Linked DNA regions of Homo sapiens. The protein of the gene in region 1 interacts with the protein of each later gene in a pairwise test. Each region holds a gene or a part of one and is shown on either strand. Other genes may lie near its edges.

The links. The genes of interacting proteins can lie anywhere in the genome.
Region 2: the proteins of CARNS1 (region 1) and TRIP12 interact in a two-hybrid assay, tested with the Homo sapiens proteins (one study listed by BioGRID and IntAct).

Annotation. Positions count from the first base shown.
Region 1 is NC_000011.10:67,411,100-67,418,684, forward strand, and holds the start of CARNS1 (carnosine synthase 1), read left to right. Parts: upstream 1-4,578; 5' UTR 4,579-4,664; intron 4,665-5,076; 5' UTR 5,077-5,100; coding exon 5,101-5,103; intron 5,104-6,307; coding exon 6,308-6,578; intron 6,579-7,331; coding exon 7,332-7,421; intron 7,422-7,585. UniProt on the Homo sapiens protein: Catalyzes the synthesis of carnosine and homocarnosine. Carnosine is synthesized more efficiently than homocarnosine.
Region 2 is NC_000002.12:229,764,998-229,772,021, reverse strand, and holds part of TRIP12 (E3 ubiquitin-protein ligase TRIP12), read left to right. Parts: intron 1-389; coding exon 390-503; intron 504-2,696; coding exon 2,697-2,791; intron 2,792-3,302; coding exon 3,303-3,406; intron 3,407-4,271; coding exon 4,272-4,468; 3' UTR 4,469-7,024. UniProt on the Homo sapiens protein: E3 ubiquitin-protein ligase involved in ubiquitin fusion degradation (UFD) pathway and regulation of DNA repair.

The sequences.
Region 1 (7,585 bases):
CCTGCTCCTTCCCCGCTCTACCCCCAATCCTGCACCAGCCCCTCAGTGTGTGAATGAGGCAATAGCCAGACTCCCGTGATTTAGAGCGCGCTCCAGAGCCTCCTCTGCCCACTCCTCCTTACCCCGCTGGGGTGCCTGCAACTTAATAATAGCCTCCTTACCTGTAGTTTACAAAACCCTTTCCCAGACCCCCCGCCCCTAGGCCCTCTCTCTGCAGGTGGCCCCTGATATCCCTGTTAGAGACACAGGCTTAGTGAGGACAAGGACCTCACCCAGGCCCACAGTGAAAGGCAGAGCCGGCTGGAATGCAGAGGCAAGGCTCTGTGCTGTGTAGACTATGCCTTATCCTTAGACGAGGAGTGTCTTGGTGGAATCTCAGGCACTGTAGCGGGCAGGGTGGCCGGGGTCAGGGGGCACTTGTCCCTGAAATCCACTTGGGAGCTCCCCGCCCTCCACAGTTCAGCTCTTTGCCTGGGAGAATAGAGGAGCAAGGTGCAGCAGCCTCAGCCCTGGGCCGAGGGTCTGTCATGAGCCTGCGGGGGCGCGGTGGCAGTGGCTCACCCTGGACACAGACCCTAGGAGCCGGTGGTCTCCAGCAGCGTCCCTCCAGCTGGGGCTCAGTCATTGCCTTTCCTACTCAGGAGACTGTTTTCTGGGCAGCTCTTCTGTAGGTTTCCTTATCAGTCACCTGCATGGGAGCCCTAACTCACAGGCTGGACAGAAGAGGCCCAGTGCCCTCCGGGTGTGAACCCTCGCACACATGCGTTCTCACAGGCTCTCCTCCGCAGGGCTGCACCGGCCCCCACAGCACCTTTTTGCCAGCTAGGGAAAGACGTCTCTCCTCCAGGCAACATGCAGCCTCACCAGAGTGCACGGTGTAGCAGAGTGGGGTGTGATCTCTCTCCCAGGTGCCTTTGTGCAGTGAGCAACCTACACAAACATGCTCAGTGAACCTAGAAAGTCCCTACAGATCTGCCTGGAAGGGGGCTCAGAGAAGGGAAGTGATGCATCTGAGAGGACTCAGTGTGTGGGGACTGAAGCTGGGAGGGCCCCTGGGATGTCTGTCAGCCTGCCTCAGAGTGGACACGAGTGGGGGCATGCAAAGGAGTGGAGCAGGACAAATGGGTGCCTGCCATGGATCGGCGGGGAGGACCCACGGTCTCCATCTTGCCCTGCCACCCACTTGAGGTTCCCTGAATTCCCACACTGTTCCAGGCTCCCAGAGGGGTCAGACTTGGACTCACCTGCATGGGAAAGGCCCTTTCTTCTCCTCTGAGCCTCAGTATTCTCCTGCGGATAATGGGATTATAATAGCCCCCACCCCAGCCTCAAGAGGGCTCTACCAGCTCATGATGATGATGATGATGACTGTTCAGTCCAGCGGGACAGCAGCCAAAGCACTGCCTCTCCTCACCCCACCCCTACCTAGCCTCAGGTGATGTCCAGGCTTTCCTGGCAGGGGCAGAGCAGAACCACCCGCCCACCTGCCTGCCCCAAGTCCCAGGATCCTGAGCTTGGGCTGCAGCTGCCCAACTCTGATTTTCCTCCCTGTATCCACAAGGCAAAAGCCAGAGCAGCCAGGGACCAGACAGGGTGGCCTAGGAGAGGGCACAGCCGCAGCACTCTGTGCATGCATGCACGCATTCTGGCAGAAGATCCCGGCTCTGCCTCTCACCAGCTGTGTGACCTTGGGCAAGTCACACGACCTCTCTCAGTCTCATAATTGCTCCCTTGCATGTGAAGTGTTAAGCCTGGGCTGAGTGTGCACTGTATCCCCATTTGAAGATGAGAAAACTGAGTCCCCAGGGCTGCAGAGCTTGTTAAATGTTAAATGTCAAAGCTCATGCTCTTTGGATCACGCCCAGGCCCCACAGTGGGACCCCATGGGCGCTCAGGCCACCCAGGTGGCAAGCGATTGGGTCTCCTGGGGTGGTTGTGGGACCTGGGCCCCTCCCCTTAGTGATCTGAAGCTCACTCTCCCCAGCCTAGAATGGGGCTGGTTCCTCATTCCTGGAGCCTGGACCAGCTGTAGGGAGGGCTGCACGTGGGCCTGGAAGTTGTGTGGGGAATGTGGGCTGGACTGGGCATCCTGGAGAAGCCATTTCCCCTCTCTGCCGACCCTCTCCAGTGGTAGACAGGGATGGGTCTGCACAGACTGCCCTGTATATAGTTGCAGAAAGGGTCCAACAGCTGTCATCTCTGTCCCTGACATGTGTGGGCCCCTCAGTATTCTCCCCCAGGCCAGGAGGCTCTCAAGGACAGCCAGGGCTCAATATGTGTCCAGTTGCGAGACAGGCAGGGAGAAGGGCTGACTGGGGACTGTGAGAGGGAGGAGTTAGAGCCATAGGCTGCCCTGCCTAGGAGAGGGAAACCAGCCCCATTCTAGGCTGGGGAGAGTGAGCTTCAGATCACAAAGGGGAGGGGCCCAGGTCCCACAGCCAGAGCTAGGATTGAAACCCACTGGTGGGACACACTCCAGGAGAGGGGGTGAATCTCTGGTTGTGCTTCTGTGGGTGAATTGTGGCTGAGACCCAGGTCTCCTGGGGTATGCTTCTGTGGTTGGGTGGGTACACTTGGGTGTGAGTATGTATGTCTTGGGGAGATTATAGCTTCAACTCCGGGTGTGAAGTTGACCTGGGTGGGTGTTGATAAGCAGAGCAGATTTCTTTTCCTTTCTTTTCTCTTCTTTTTTCTTTCTTTTTTTTTTTTTTTAAAGAGATAGGGGGGCCAGGTGCAGTGGCTCACACCTGTAATCCTAGCACTTTGGGAGGCCAAGGTGACCAGATCATGAGGTCAGGAGATTGCGACCATCCTGGCCAACATCATGAAACCCCGTCTCCACTAAAAATACAAAAATTAGCTGGGTGGGCTGGGCGCGGTAGCTCATGCCTGTAATCCTAATACTTTGGGAGGCTGAGGCGGGCAGATCACCTGAGGTCGGGAGTTCGAGACTAGCCTGACCAACATGGAGAAACCCTGTCTCTACTAAAAATACAAAATTAGCTGTCATGGTGGCGCATGCCTATAATCCCAGCTACTCCAGCCTGGGCAACAAGAGCGAAACTCCATCTCAAAAACAAAACAAAACAAAACAAAACAAAAGTAGCTGGGCATGGTGGCTCGCACCTGTAGTCCCAGCTACTTGGGAGGCTGAGGCAGGAGAATCACTGGACCCGGGGAGGCGGAGGTTGCAGTGAGCCAAGATTGTGCCACTGCACTCCAGCCTGGTGACAGAGTAAGACTCTGTCTTAAAAAAAAAAAAAAAAAAAAAAGGGATAGGGTCAAAAAAAAAAAAAAAAAAAAGAGAGAGAGATAGGGTCTCGGCTGGGTACAGTGGCTTACACCTGTATTCTCAGGACATTGGGAGGCCGAAGCAGGAGGAGCACCTGAGGTCAGGAGTTCAAGACAAGCCTGGCCAACACGGCGAAACCCTGTCTCTACTAAACACACAAAAATTAGCCAGGCGTGGTGGCGTGTGCCTGTAATCCCAGCCACTCAGGAGGCTGAGGCAGGAGAATCACTTGAACCTGGGAGGTAGAGGTTGCAGTGAGCTGAGATCACACCACTGCACTCCAGCCTGGGCCGACACACTGAAACTCTGTCTCAAAAAAAAAAAAAAAAAAAAAAAAAGCGGAGCGAGCGAGAGAGATAGGCTCTCACTGTATTGCCCAGGCTGGAGTGCAGTGGCACAACCAGGACTCACTGCAGTCTCGACCCCCGGGGCTCATGTGATCTTCCCACCTCAGCCTCCCAAGTAGCTGGGATTACAGGCCCACACCACCTCAACCAGCTAGTTTAAATTTTTTTTTTTTATAGAGACAGGGTCTTGCTATGTTGCCCAGGCTGGTCACAAACTCCTGGGTTCAAGCAATTCTCCTGCCTCAGGCTCCCAAAGTGCTGGGATTATAGGCAGCCACCGCACCAGGAGAGGCTGGATCTTATAGACATCCTGGCCCCTGTGTGCAAGTCCACTGGGTCCAGAAGTGAGGAGGGGGCTGCACAGATGTGTGGAGACCCTGGCCCAGGAGGGCCTCTCTGGGAGAACGTGCAATAGGGCAAAGCGCTGGCAGCTGGGACAGAAAGCTGCAGGGCTGGGACCTCCGGCCTCCATCCAAAGGTAGGGCTCAGGGCTGTGTGCTCCAGGCTGCTCTCCCGGGCACCCCACCCCTAAGGGCGGGCCCTAGTACCAGTCTCTGCCTGCTCCGGCTCTCCCCGCCCCTCCTTTCCATCTCTTCTCCATGGTGGGCCTCCCTCTTTCTTCATGGCAGCCCTACGTCTGTGACCCTCGACGACAGTCCCTGTCCATCTGTACCTGGCCCTCTGTCGGGACTTCCTCTGTGTCTCTGAAGACCCCCGTCTCTCCCTGCCTGCTCCGTGCCCTCCTCCTGCTGGGTCCGTGTCCCGCCACACGCCCCCAGGTCTGGGACGTTTTCGTGGCTGACGGGCGGGGGGGGGGGGGGGCGCGTCCCCGGCGGGTCCCTATCGGTCCCTGTCGGTCCGTCCGCCCCGCGCCGCCCCCGCTGGGCACTGGGCATGCCCCAGGCGTTTCTATATAAAGCGGCGCCGCTTGGGCCGGGCGCTGTGCCACTGCCACCGCCGCCGCCGCTGCATCCCGCCCGGTCCGAGTCCGCCCGCCACGCCCGCCGAGCCGCTGCCGCCGCCAGGTACCCCAGCTCCGGCCCCGCCCCGGGGAGAGCCAGGGAGGGGGGCGGCCGGGGCAGGAGTCGCGGGGACGAGGACCCCGGGCGCCCGCTCCCCGCGGCGGGACCCTCGACGCTACGCCCCCCACCCCCGGGACCCGGTGCCCCCAACTCCCCCCCGCGCTGGAGGGGCAGAGCCAAGCCCGGACCCCAGGGCAGGAAGGACCTGTGAGCCGCACTGGGGCAGGAGCCACTCGGTCTGGGCAGCAGAAATCCCTCCCTACCTTCGGGGTGGGGGTGGGGCTGCCTTGGCCTCTCTCTGCAGGGACAGGTGTCGGCCACCTCTCCACTCCCAAAGTCTAGGGGCTGGAAGGCCAGGCAGGGACTTGGCTGCCCTGACTCCTTCGTCTCTCTGTCCCTCTGTCTCTGCCATCAGTCTCTCAGCCACTCCACCCACGAGATGGTGAGTCTTCTGTGGTCCCTCCCCCACAAGGCCCAAGTCCCTGGGCAGAGAGTGGGCCCAGAGGACAGCAGGCAGCACCTAGGACCTAAGCCTGGGAGTTGCCCCCTGCAGACAGCTTAGACCCACGACCAGCTCCCCCACCCCCACCCTGCGGCTGCATCCTGGGAGGTGGGCACTCTTAGTGCCCTGTGACATTCATTCATTCCATGGCCCCTCAGGGAGCTCACCTTCTAGGAGACGGCACAGAGGCTCTGGCCCTGGCAAACTGGGATTCGAGCCCAGGCATGAGGCCCAGTCCTCTGCCGTCTGGGCCACAGCACACCATCTCCCAACAACCAAGAGATTCTCTTCGTCCCAGCCTCATCAGCCCCCAGGGGATGGGAGAGGGCAGGCACCAGGCAACAAGGTCCAAAGAGACCTCACGACTTGCTCAAGGTGGCCGAGCCTGTCCCCTGGAGGACAGACTCAGCTGCCAGGCCTGTCCAGGCCTGGGGACTGCAAAGAACAAGAATTCCATTCACACGAAGCCTCCCAGCAGCCCCATATTGGGGGGGCGCCAGCCTCAGAGAGGGGAGGGACGTTAGGTTTCATCCAAAGAAAGCATTTCCGTGACTCAAAATATCTGCAGGGGGGATACTGTCTAGCCTCCTAATGTTTAGCCCAGGGCTGGGCACACAGTAGGGCTTCAAGACCTACGTGGGGATGACAGTGGAATCACATTTAGGTGTCAGCACACTCCATGCCGGGTCATGAGACAGAAATAAGCCACCTCAGAGTGATGGCTGGGTTCGTTCATTCATCTACTCTTCAGTCAACAAACACTTACTGAGAAGTGGCTGTGTGCCAGGCACGCTTTAGGTGCTGGGGTTGCCTCCATGAACAAAACAAGCAGAAAACTCTGCTGCTGTGAAGCAAGCTAAGGCGGAGCCCAGCATGGCAGGGGCGGGAGGGGCTGGCTGGCAAGACATTGCTTCCTGCCCTCCCCCCAGGGGCACCACACAGAACAGTTTACAAAGCACTCCCACGGTTGCGTTCCCATTAACAAGCCTTCGCCCCCAACACAAGCCTTTCCTCTCCTAGTCCCCGGGACGGTGTCAGCCCTGAACATAGCCCAGGCTGGGAGAGTGGGGGGCTTACACCCTTGGGTGACTTAATGTGCCCACTGGCCCACCCTGCCCAAGACCTACCACTTCTGCCCTCTCAGCTCTCCCTGGATCCATCGGGTCCCGAGTGGGATTGCCCACTGGGCTCCAAGGACCTGGAGGAAGAGGGCCCCTGGGGAGGGGGCTCTGGCCTGCCGCCCACAGGCTGCTTCCCTGGCTCCTGGCGCCAGGACGTGGGCCTGGACTGCAAGGGATCCCCCGAGGGGGCCGAGGCCCGGGCTTGGACTGTCTACTACTACAGCCTCCTGCAGAGCTGTCTGCAGCAAGCTGGCCTTCCGGAGACTCAGGACCGCGGCCAGGTGCCCCGCACAGGTGCCCAAGGGCTCCCTGGAGGGAGGCACCTCTGGGGGCAGGGAGGGGCCCTCAGCCCAGTCTGCTTGCTCATCCCTGTCAAGGTCGGCCCCTTCCCCTAGGCTCTGGTTCCATCTGAAGGCAGGGAAGGCACAGCCAGTTGGCCTAGGGTAGGCGGACATTGTTTGCAAGGGCATCTGGCACCAGTGAGGTCAAGGATTGGGCTCCCTGCCCTCACCCCCTCCCCAAAAAGACCCAGCCCTGGGATTGGGAAACCACGTTGTGTGGCACCGAAGCTTCTAGAGAAAGGTCTTGGGAGCTGTGGTGGAGGCAGCTCAGCAGCTGAGACCCCCCAGACTCCTCCCCTTCTGCCCCTCCACGCCTGTTACATATATCAGACTTTGTGTGGACAGAGGGTTCACAGGCAGAATACCTGAGAATCACAGACTTGGTCCCATTGTACAAACTTGGAAACTGAGGCTTGGAGGAACACTGACTCCTCCAAGGTTACACAGAAAGTCAGAGCTCGGGCTAGAACTCAGGTCTCCAGTCACCTAGCCCACAGCACCTCTGGAACAGCTGCAGAAAGGGGAAACCAGCTTCACGGGGCAGGACTGGCGGGCACCTCCATTCCCTGCCTGTCCCCTGTCTCATCCGATTCCTGGGAAAACTCTGGGGGCTCAGGGTGGGGCCGTGGGTGTGGAGGTGGTGGAAGGTGGGCAGAGAGACAGCAAGGGCGCCCCTGGTGAGCTGGGCCATGTTCTCTTTCCCGAGGCTGTCCTGGGGCGGAGGTGACCTTGTGCGTTCTGGGCTCCCCCAGCACCTTTCTGCCTGTGCTGCTGGAGGGTGGGGTCCAGAGCCCGGGTGAGTGTATGCTCAAGTTTCCCCATCCCCTTCTACAGAAAGGGCAGCCCTGCCCTGGCCCAGCCACATCCCAAAATACCCGCCAACCCTGGCAACTGCCTGCATTCCACCGGAGCAGCTGCCATGCTGAATGGGGATGGGTTCTGGGATCAGCTGCTTCCACT
Region 2 (7,024 bases), on another chromosome or scaffold:
CTTAATAGTGGCTAATTGTGATTCTTCAAACATTACCTTTAATTCTCAATAACATTTTATCCTCTTGGGAAATTCTCATTTGATTCCCATCCAGTGAGGTAATATAACTGTATGGCATGGGTTTCACATAAATAGATTTTTAAAACACACTAAATGTAAATGCACATGGCATTTTTTTTTTACATTTTGTTATTGGTAGGGGCCCCACATTAGATGTTGACCTGATGTTTTACTCATGTAGTTTTCTAGCAGATTATTTTAAAGTCTTAATAACTTGTTTGTTCTTTATAAAGTGATCCAGAAGGGTGTTTCACTGTACTTTGCCACATATTAAATAGTAAAGAGATTTGAAATCTTGTCACAGTTTTTTGAAAACTTTCTTTTTGCAGCTGGTTATATTCTGGGCACTAAATGAAGGCGTTTCTAGGCAATTTGATTCGTTCAGAGATGGATTTGAATCAGTCTTCCCACTCAGTCATCTTCAGTACTTCTACCCGGAGGAAGTGAGTAGCTTATATCTAAAAGAAATGGTCATACCTATAATTTTAGTGGAGTGTTTCTGTGCTGCCTAGTCAAAGACCGTATTGTTGCACAAAAACAAAAAAATGGGTGTTAGATAGCAGGGGATGGATGTTTGGGAAAGACAAGGAAATTGCCTGAGCAAGGAAGAATGTTAAATAGGTGTCCCCTCTTAGATTGGGGAGCGGGTTCCACGCGTGACAGTAAGCATAGCATCTTTGTCAGCCAAGACCCTCAATGCCATTCAGTGGAGAATGGGGACTTGTGCTGTGTGTGGCATGTTCTACATGTTTCTGTACTGCTGTGGAAGCAAAGAGAGACATGGAGGGGGCTTGACTTTATTCCTTAACTAAACTTCGTTTCGATGAGACATTGTTTCACAATCAAAGTTAGTCCTTGAAGTTTTAAGAAAGTATTATAAATTATCTAATTGCCAAATACAGAGAATACTTCTGAGAATGGAAGAAATGGATTTATGTGCTTGGTTTTCTCTAGCCGCCTGTATTAGTCTGTTTTCATGCTGCTGATAAAGACATAACCGAGACTGGGCAATTTACAAAAGAAAGAGGTTTATTAGACTTAGAGTTCCACGTGGCTGGGGAGGCCTCACAATCATGGTGGAAGGTGAAAGGCACATCTCACATGGCAGCAGACAAGACGAGAGCTTGTGCGGGGAAACTCCCCTTTTTGAAACCATCAGATCTCGTGAGACATATTCACTATTATGAGAATAGCCTGGGAAAGACCTGCCCCCATGATTCAGTTACCTCCCACCAGGTCATTCCCACAGCAGGTGGGAATTGTGGGAGTTACAGTTCAAGATGAGATTTGGGGTAGGGGCACAGCCAAACCATATTACCGTCTTTAATTTCAAGTGCCAAATCTCAAAAGAACTACTCACTGGTAGTGAGATACAGAAAGCCTCTAGAATGTGTCCAGTTTCCCTCAGTTTTGAAACCTTTTTATTTATTGTTTGAATACTAGTTTTAGAGTGTATGTTCACTACTGATTAAATCTATAAATTTTTGATTAACTTAACGTCTTAATCTCAGTTATATTTGTGTCTACTTAAGCATGTAGTGTGCCTGATACTTGTAGGCACTGCTTGTCACCTGGAATAGAATCATGGTCCTCACCACTTGCTGTATAACCTTATCCAAGTTACTGTATCTGATAGGACTGTTTCATCTGTAAAATTGGAATAACCCCTATCACAGAGTAATGGAAATTAAATAGGCTGGGCACAGTGACTTAGCCTATAATCCCAGCACTTTGGGAGATGGAGGTGGGAAGATCACTTGAGCTCGGAAATTTAAGATTAGGCTGGGCAACATAGTGAGACCTTGTCTAAAATAAAAAAAATAATTAGCTGGGCGTGGTGGTATGCACCTGTAGTCTCAGCTACTTGGAAGGCTGAGGTTGGAGGATCACTTGAGCCCAGGAGATCATGACGGGAGTGAGCTGTGATTAGGCCACTACACTCCAGCCTGGGCAACAGAGCAAAGCTTTGTCTTTAAATATATAGGACCAGACAGTGAGCATTATATAATAGATATTAAATTTCATTGGCCTCAAATTGGATTTTCTCAAAGTATAAGGACATGAAAGCATTTATTGCTTTCTAATATTCATTCTATAATATCTGGGTTGGTCCCCATACAACCAACCATGTAGCGTAGACATGCCTCTCTACAAAGTGTAAAGACCTACCCATTTGCTGTGTCCTAGTTCAGCTTGCTTCTCCCACTTCTTTCTCCAGCTCAATGTTCTCTCCCTTGGCATCTGTTACTGTATACCTTTGTGTTTCTGAAAGCCAGGATTTATAAAATCTCCCTGACTAGAAGCAGATTATCCATTTAAAGCACCTAAAGTAATGAGAAGAAAGGAAAACTGAAATCAAGGGTCATCAGGTGTTTTTGGTTTGAGAGGAAGGGTTTCTCAGGAACCAAGTCCCTGCAGATGGGCAGGGTACTTAATAGCGTACAGCTAAAAAGGAAATGGAATCTCTAAATTTTATTTTATTTTATTATTATTTTTTTTTTTTTGGAAAGAGGTCCCAAGCAGAAGGTTTTAGTACTGAGACTGATACTCTTTTATGGTACACGTAGACCTTTATTTTCACTCACGTAAACAAATGTTTCCTTAGTAATTCTTTTTACCCTTATTTAAACTCACAGCTGGATCAGCTCCTTTGTGGCAGTAAAGCAGACACTTGGGATGCAAAGACACTGATGGAATGCTGTAGGCCTGATCATGGTTATACTCATGACAGGTAAGTACTGGGGTCTGCCAGTTTTTCTGTTGATTCTGAAGAATGTGGAGAGGGGTGTGTGTGTACACACACATGCGCACATGTGTAAACAACAAAAGTTGGAGTGGTTCATTTTAAAATGTGTCTACCTGTTAATGGATGCTTACTTCTGTTTTGGCCTTATTTCTCTGAAGATGGGAAATTAAGACCCAAGGGTTTCTTTCTCAAGTATTTCTGTGAAAATACTAGGGGTTGGGGAAGACAGATTTAATCTTGTTCCCCATTATTACATATAGTAAAGCAGAAATATCTGTACAGTACCAGATCAAGTCTTACTTATTACAACTGTAATCATTCCATTTGAATTCTAGTCTAGTCATAACAGAAACGAATTTAAGTACATTGTAATGGAAAATGTATGTGTAATTTAAAAGTGCTAATCTAATTTTTATGTCATGTGATGCGATGCAGTGTGATTAAAACTCTATTTTAACCTGATGAAATAATTTTGGTATATTTATTTCTGTTATAGTCGGGCTGTGAAGTTTTTGTTTGAGATTCTCAGTAGTTTTGATAATGAGCAGCAGAGGTTATTTCTCCAGTTTGTGACTGGTAGCCCAAGATTGCCTGTTGGAGGTGGGTACGATGTTGATGTTTAGCATTTATTCTACCTATGGGTGGGTTTGTGAGTGTGAAACTTCAGTACCATCAGCAGGAGATTCTTTATCTCACTTGCAGTGCCTCTTAGTTATTCCAGTATCATTATAGTACATTGAGACCACTAGCAGGGAAATCCATGGGGATTGTCTTAAACATATTGAAGTAGGATTACTAATGCACATGTAATGCTGGTTAGATAAAATTCCAGGCCATTTGTACATTCTAAACTCTTAGTTGACTTAGATGAGAATGGATTCTAAAATCTGGTTTTTCAGATTGAATCCTAATGTAAGTTAAATTGGTATTCTGTTGTTTTTGTTTTGTTTTTTGAGACAGGATCTCACTCTTGTCACCCAGGCTGAAGTGCAGTGGCGTGATCTTGGCTCACTGCAACCTCTGCCTCCTGGGCTCAGGCGAGATCCTCCTGCTTCAGCCTCCTGTGTAGCTGGGACTACAGGCACAACACAGCACCATGTCTGGCTAATTTTTGTATTTTTGTAGAGATAGGGTTTCTCCATGTTTCCCAGGCTGGTCTGAAACTCTCAAGCGACTGGCTCACCTCGGCCTCCCAGAGTGCTGGGATTACGGGCGTGAACCACTGTGGGTATTCCATTTTAAAAATCAGAAGACATAAAGAACTGTTGCCTCCATGTTATACAGCGAGTTTTTAAATGATAAATTAAAGCAGGTTCCTTGCACTTAATGTATATTGAATGTGCAATTGCCAAGCAAGAAAGAATATCTTGTGTGTAATATTGTACGGCAAAGCAGTGGAATGTTTTCTGATAGCTGATGTTTTTTAAAAACTTAAGTTCCTTGTCTTTCTTTTTCTCTTAATCAGGATTCCGGAGTTTGAATCCACCTTTGACAATTGTCCGAAAGACGTTTGAATCAACAGAAAACCCAGATGACTTCTTGCCCTCTGTAATGACTTGTGTGAACTATCTTAAGTTGCCGGACTATTCAAGCATTGAGATAATGCGTGAAAAACTGTTGATAGCAGCAAGAGAAGGGCAGCAGTCGTTCCATCTTTCCTGATCATAGCAAGAAATGCAGTGTCTGCCTGTTACAGCAAAAGAAACAAATCATGATTTCTTTTCTAATGTTATCACCTGAGTCAAGGAAACATGTTACGCCTTCTTGTTGTAGGAAAAACGGCTTGCAGATTATAAAGAGACATTTGGTTGATATTCATTAATGGCCCCATGGACTTAAAGTGATCAGGCCCTAAAACGTTGTTGTGATGAGGTTTCTTTAGCAAGTTCTTGTTTAAATTATCATTTATTTGATGAGTGAAGTTTTTAACATGCTTTGCTGTGTGAAATTTAAAAAAGGGATGTTTTTCCAGGCTGGAACAATAAATGTGGCTGTGCAGTTTAATTCTGGGCTGTGTGTATCCATCTAGCTAAGTCTGCAGTTTTCTTTCCTCCAAAGACAACTCTTGTACATAAGTACAGAAATTTAAGCTCACATGTATTTGACAAATATAGTTTAGTAGACTAGCTCTATGTGCTTTTCACTTTCCTCTGATTTTCTCTCCCTGATTCATTATTATCTGTGCAGCTCACAGTTTTTTTTTTGTATACAACTCACAGTTCTCAAATTTTCGTTACCCATGGGCTTCTGTTGTCCCATGTTCTCTCCAGTTAAGATCTAATTTAAAATTCATTGGATTGAAATTTATTGAATATAATTCAGCTTTTGTAACTAGGTAGACTTTTCTTATAGTTTAGTTTTAATATAGTTTAGGGTATTACTGGCTTTTTCCCAGGTGACACACTAAGGACTGTTTACATGGCAATTCCAGCAGCAACAGCCTCTGGAATGAGACAAGGAAAGCTCATTTGTTTCTTTTATGAAGGTTAAGAAGTCTACAGCTTGGGCTGGCCGGTATTTATTATTCTGTGGCCAGAGGATTTTAAATTAATGTAAATTTTTTAAACAAAATAAGCAGTTTTCCTTCCCTGTTGGAGTAAAAAAATTTTTTTCCCTTTGTTGTTTTACGTTTTTGTTCATAGTCTTCTTTATTCCACGCTCCTCTTCCCCTTCTCCCAGTGCTGACTTGGGACAAAACAGTTCAGCCTTTGTCTCGACGCAGATAAAAGCACCTGTAAGCAATGCTGTCCAGTCATTTTATGTGCTGATTTCTCAAATCTGCAATAATCCATCAGGTTAATGTTTTTACCTGAAAATAAAGAAAGTTTGCTTCACCTTTTTGTTTATAGTTTTGTGCTGTATGCATAACTTTCAATTGTATAGATGTATTTCAATGCAAGGAAATCCACATATCTCCATGATTCGGGTCATGGCTGATTTTGCTATTCAAACAATTTATAATAGCAACTTGAAGAAACTAAAATGTGAAGAGAAAATGGGAGGAGATTCCTTCCTAAGGTCCAAAACTAGGCCTGTGGCATAAATTTGAAGGAATTTTCCATAATTCATCTCCTTGAAAATAAGAGATGAGCTAGTTTTTTTTTTTAATTGAACTTTGAGAAATCAATTTTTTTGACTGTTCTGTAAGTTTTAATTAATTGACACAAAAGCCCTTTTCCCTATCCCACCACCCAAAAGAAACTCAGTGGCTTGTTTGACATAGATTGCTGTGTCAATTTACACTTAAATGGCCTTATATGGAAATGTCCCCTCCTGAGAGTTCACTTGGGCAGTGACCCCATTAAGTGGAAGGGAACTGTCAGAGGAGTTGGGGGCAGAGAATTCTCTCCCTGTCTCTGCAGAGACTGACAAGTGAATGGCTTTTCCCTGAAATCCAAGAAGGGAATTGTGTTTCTGCAGTTTTCACCACTAACAGCACAGTTGCTGAGCAGCTTCATCAAGTGAAGTTAAAGACTGAAACAATTTGTTTTCAACTGTTCTGATATCTTCCTGCAAATTAAGCACAAGGATTTTTGTGTGAACATAGCATTTTGTTCCTGATTTTTAAAGGGTTCTGTTAAAATTTAGACATGTATAAACAAAATAATGTTTCATCTGTACTTGACATTTTATCCATGTTGCAGCCCTGGCAAATTTGGCCTCATTGATTCCAGCATCTAATAAGTATATATGATGATTTTGACTCAAACTCTAAAGTCTTGAGTGTTTCAAAGTCAGTCGTTACCTGTTTAAAAGCCTCAGCCTTTAGCTTATTCCTCCTTCAATACACGGGACCTTTGGTTAATTTGGGGCAGGAAAACTCTTAAAGTAATCTCTCTTGGCAGAGGCCTTATTGCACCAGAGGGAAAAAGTATATACTTCATTTGCTGTTACTCCAGTTATGCCTTAAATTCATTTGCTTGGTAATCCTATCAACGAGCACTAACTTCTTAGTATACTTTAAACACTTAGTTGGGTAACAACTGAGATTTTGTTGTCCTTTATTTTTTGCTGAGATGGAGTCAGTCAGATGTTAGTCATAGCTAACACCGAATTTGTGTTGTCATTTAGACAGTTACTGATTCGATCTGCTTTATATATGAGAACGTATTTTTAACTATTCCAAGAAGGAAGAGGTAGCTAAATGTAATCCCCTCTTCCTATCCCCCCAGAAAACTGAACTGTAAGTTCTAGGTAGACTAATTGGGAGCAGACACG